2 separate regions of the Homo sapiens genome follow, and region 1 is linked to region 2. Evidence: fine-mapped expression QTL. Tissue or cell type: whole blood. Region 2 holds a variant in brackets; the other region holds the start of a gene. All regions are shown on one strand. Distances are between the middles of the regions.

Region 1 (2,688 bases), 200 kb before region 2:
GAATACCACGGAAGGCTAAAAAAGGCTGGGACTGTGGACTTCCCTGTATTTTCTTTTCGTTGAGTAGATGCTCAACATCTATTTGTTGGGATGGAAAATTATTTCAACGCTTCAGCAAACAGTTAAAGAGAACCTTTTTTGTGCTGAGCACTGTGCTATGTTCTGGGGAGCAAAAAAAATGAACTAGACAAAATCCCTGTCCTTTTAAGGAACACACAGTCTAGGAAGAAAAGGCCACCAAGCAAAGCAACAGGAAAAAAGCAAGTATTAAAGATTATCATAGGGAATACTGTAGATAGACGATTTTATGAAAGCAGAGAGAAAAAGAGTATTTAATTCATTGTAAATGTGTGGGGTAAGGATACAGATGTGGTGAAAGGAGATGATGTCAGGGAAGATTCCAAGGAGGAAGGGATGCATTATCTTCATTATCTTGAAGGACAATAGGAGTTCAACTGGTTAAATGAGGGATGGATTTCAGGTGGGGGAAAACTACAAGGGCACAAAGACAAAGTCTGTTGAATTTGTGTGATACGTAGATATATTAGGAGTTGAAGCTGGAGCCAAGGAGGTCAATAGATCAGATTTTAAATGGCTTTGTAAACCATGGTAATGAGTTTGAACCTGATTCAACCAGGTGGAGAGACTTTGAATGATTTTAAAGAGGGACGTTTCATGCTTAGCTCTGTCTTTTTGGAGCATTCTCTCTGGCAGTTATATGGAACTGAAGCAGCAGTGAAGTTAAAGGCTTGACCTAGAGTGGCAAAGAGGTGGAAGTCATGGAGACAGACTGATATTCACAGAATTAAGAGGAAGAATTAATCCACGGGATTTTAAGTCAGAAAACTTTAGTGGAGAGAAATTTGGTTGCTTAGTTGTTGGAATAGGAAGATTTTATCAACGGAATTAGGTGATACTGAAGTGAGTGGCTGAGTGAATAATATGGAAGTCTTGAAATTGGGACCACACAGCTGCTCTGATCTGGTGTGAATTTGCTGATGACTCTTTTGAACTGAATTCAGGAAATGACATACAAATGATTTGCGCAATAAAATGAAAACAAGGACTCTTAAGTCAGTATACTTGGAGAAAAATAACTAGGTTGGTAAAAATGGGGAAGTAGCCATTATCAGGGAGCCCCATTGTGGATTAATTTTGGACTGTCCAGTGGAAAGATCCTCAAAGCAAAACAAATGCCCTGAATCCAGCCCTTCCTCACCGCAACCCTTTCCCTTTCATCTGCCTTCATCCTTCAGCCACACCACCGCTTGGCAGTGAGTACTTGGGAGCAGCTCTTGGAGACTTTGTACTCGAACCTTCGAACTCCAGCATGAGGCCAGAGGAAATAAATGACCTGCCAGGGTGTCAAGTAACGGACCCTCTCTTAAGCCCAGACTTCTGACTCCAGATCTAGGTACCCTTCCACTCTCCAAGACTGCCTCCCGCCTGGGGAGCCTGGGCCTCGGCTAGGGGTGGGGACGGCAGGGTCCGTCCGGAGCGCCAGAGTCCCACTCGCGCCCAGCCCTCAGCCCCAGGCCCGGTTGGACGCCCCGCCCCGCCCCGCCTCCTTCCTCCTTCCCGCGCCGGGCGGGTTGCTGTACCGCCGTCACCCGGGCGCGCGCGGGGTCGCGCGGACGCGGCTCGGGCCGCGGGTGCCGAGAGGTCGCCGGGCCACCCGCACCCCCGCTCCCCGCCTGACGCACGGAGGGGCCGGGACGCGATTTGCCGCGAGTGACTGGAGCCGCAGCCGTCGCCGCTGCTGCCGCCGCCGCCCGGGCCCGCTCCGCCCCCAGCCCGCCTTCCTCCCGCCGCGCCCTCCGCCTCCGCCCGCACCTCGCTAGCGTTCCCCTGTCTTCCCCAACGCCCCGGAGCCGCCGGCCGCTAGCGTCAGCGCCAGCCAGGTGAGTGTGGCCGCCGCTCGGCCCGGGCGGGAGAAGCGCGCAGGCCCCGCGGCCGGGTGGCCGGCTTGGGCCGGTGCAGTCGGCGGCGGCGGCGGTAGCGGGCCCGGCTTTCTTCCCCTGCGCGGGCCGCGGGGCGGAGGGGCTACGCAGTGAAGGAGGGGCGCCCCCGCCCCGCCACCGCCTCTGCTCCCAACGCCCCGACCGCCCCCACCGCCTTGCCGCCACAGACAAAGCGCCGGAGGTGGGAGCCCTGCGGGCCGCCTTTGCCTCCGCGCCGTCTGCCGGGTGCGGCCGCGGCCCGCAGAGACCGGGCCGCGCGCTTTTCCGTTCCTGAGCGCCCTTGTTCATTTCTGGGTGAAAGGGACCCGAATTGTGCAACAGGTTTGGGCGTTAGTCCTTATTTTCCAGCGGGTCTCTTTTGCCAGCGTGCAGGAACCAGATGTGGCTCCCTGCTCTCGGGCGAGTCCCGCGTCCAGCGCCCGCGACTGGCTCCTTTGTGTGACCGGTGACCGGCCCTGTCGGGTGGGTGGAGGACACGGGCTCGAGGCCCCAGGGCTGCGCCGAGGCTCCTGGACGCCTCCTCAGGTCGCGGGGCTTGGCTTCCACGGGCCTGCCAGAGGTTAACATCCCTCCAGCGTTTGGGAGAGTCACAAAGGGGAGGAGAGAGAGGGTTGGCCAGGGTCTGTGGTTGTGTTTATTTTTCTATTTTAGGTAGACTCATATTAGAAAAGAGCCGCAGTCTGACCAGCTCTTGAGGGTACGGGTGGGATTTCACCCTGGGATGCAC
Region 2 (2,688 bases):
GAGAATACTACAAACACCTCTATGCAAATAAACTAGAAAATCTAGAAGAAATGGATAAATTCCTTGACACATACACCCTCCCAAGACTAAACCAGGAAGAAGTTGACTCTCTGAACAGACCAATAACAGACTTTGACATTGTGGCAATAATCAGTAGCTTACCAACAAACAGAGTCCAGGACCAGATGGATTCACAGCGAAATTCTACCAGAGGTACAAGGAGGAACTGGTACCATTCCTTCTGAAACTATTCCAATCAATAGAAAAAGAGGGAATCCTCCCTAACTCATTTTATGAGGCCAGCATCATCCTGATACCAAAGGCTGGCAGTGACACAACCAAAAAAGAGAATTTTAGACCAATATCCTTGATGAACATTGATGCAAAAATCCTCAATAAAATACTGGCAAACCGAATCCAGCAGCACATCAAAAAGCTTATCCACCATGATCAAGTGGGCTTCATCCCTTGGATGCAAGGCTGGTTCAATATACGCAAATGAATAAATGTAATCCAGCATATAAACAGAACCAAAGACAAAAACCACGATTATCTCAATAGATGCAGAAAAGCCTTTGACAAAATTCAACAACGCTTCATGCTAAAAACTCTCAATAAATTAGGTATTAATGGGACGTATCTCAAAATAATAAGAGCTATCTATGACAAACCCACAGCCAATATCATACTGAATGGGCAAAAACTGGAAGCATTCCCTTTGAAAACTGGCACAAGACAGGGATGCCCTCTCTCACCACTCCTATTCAACATAGTGTTGGAAGTCCTGGCCAGGGCAACCAGGCAGGAAAAGGAAATAAAGGGTATTCAGTTAGGAAAAGAGGAAGTCAAATTGTCCCTGTTTGCAGATGACATGATTGTATATCTAGAAAACCCCATTGTCTCAGCCCAAAATCTCCTTAAGGTGATAAGCAACTTCAGCAAAGTCTCAGGATACAAAATCAATGTACAAAAATCACAAGCATTCTTATACACCAATAACAAACAGAGAGCCAAATCATGAGTGAACTCCCATTCACAATTGCTTCAAAGAGAATAAAGTATCTAGGAATCCAACTTACAAGGGATGTGAAGGACCTCTTCAAGGAGAACTACAAACCACTGCTCAATGAAATAAAAGAGGATACAAACAAATGGAAGAACATTCCATGCTCATGGGTAGGAAGAATCAATATCGTGAAAATGGCCATACTGCCCAAGGTAATTTATAGATTCAATGCCATCCCCATCAAGCTACTAATGACTTTCTTCACAGAATTGGAAAAAACTACTTTAAAGTTCATATGGAACCAAAAAAGAGCCCGCATCAGCAAGTCAATCCTAAGCCAAAAGAACAACACTGGAGGCATCA[C/T]GCTACCTGACTTCAAACTATACTACAAGTCTACAGTAACCAAAACAGCATGGTACTGGTACCAAAACAGAGATATAGATCAATGGAACAGAACAGAGCCCTCAGAAATAACACCGTGTATCTACAACTATCTGATCTTTGACAAACCTGACAAAAACAAGCAATGGGGAAAGGATTCACTATTTAATAAATGGTGCTGGGAAAACTGGCTAGCCATATGTAGAAAGCTGAAACTGGATCCCTTCCTTATACCTTATACAAAAATTAATTCAAGATGGATTAAAGACTTAAATGTTAGACCTAAAACCATAAAAACCCTAGAAGAAAACCTAGGCTTTACCATTCAGGACATAGGCATGGGCAAGGACTTCATGTCTAAAACACCAAAAGCAATGGCAACAAAAGCCAAAATTGACAAATGGGATCTAATTAAACTAAAGAGCTTCTGCACAGCAAAAGAAACTACCATCAGAGTGAACAGGCAACCTACAAAATGGGAGAAAATTTTCGCAACCTACTCATCTGACAAAGGGCTAATATCCAGAATCTACAATGAACTCAAACAAATTTACAAGAAAAAAACAAACAACCCCATCAAAAAGTGGGCGAAGGACATGAACAGACACTTCTCAAAAGAAGACATTTATGCAGCCAAAAAACACATGAAAAAATGCTCACCATCACTGGCCATCAGAGAAATGCAAGTCAAAACCACAATGAGATACCATCTCACACCAGTTAGAATGGCAATCATTAAAAAGTCAGGAAACAACAGGTGCTGGAGAGGATGTGGAGAAATAGGAACACTTTTACACTGTTGGTGGGACTGTAAACTAGTTCAACCATTGTGGAAGTCAGTGTGGAGATTCCTCAGGGATCTAGAACTAGAAATACCATTTGACCCAGCCATCCCATTACTGGATATATACCCAAAGGATTATAAATCATGCTGCTATAAAGACACATGCACAGGTATGTTTATTGCAGCTCTATTCACAATAGCAAAGACTTGGAACCAACCCAAATGTCCAACAATGATAGACTGGATTAAGAAAATGTGGCACATATACACCATGGAATACTATGCAGCAATAAAAAATGATGAGTTCATGTCCTTTGTAGGGACATGTATGGAATTGGAAATCATCATTCTCAGTAAACTATCGCAAGAACAAAAAACCAAACACCGTATATTCTCACTCATAGGTGGGAATTGAACAGTGAGATCACATGGACACAGGAAGGGGAACATCACACTCTGGGGACTGTTGTGGGCTGCGGGGAGCGGGGAGGGATAGCATTAGGAGATATACCTAATG

The links. PIP is the estimated chance that this variant, and not a neighbour inherited with it, causes the effect.
Region 1: it holds the start of SESTD1, and the variant in region 2 is fine-mapped to the expression of SESTD1 in whole blood (TOPMed, PIP 0.99).

What each region holds. Positions count from the first base shown.
Region 1 is chr2:179,263,712-179,266,399 of GRCh38, reverse strand. It overlaps SESTD1 (SEC14 and spectrin domain containing 1), which reads left to right and starts at 1,568. Exons shown (of 18, transcript NM_178123.5): 1 at 1,568-1,901. RefSeq lists silencers at 1,467-2,086, 2,097-2,166, 2,275-2,438.
Region 2 is chr2:179,061,298-179,063,985 of GRCh38, reverse strand. No RefSeq gene overlaps it. Among named protein-coding and RNA genes, the nearest start is that of CCDC141, 13 kb to the right of the region's middle. The variant C/T (reference allele first, on the strand shown) is at 1,370.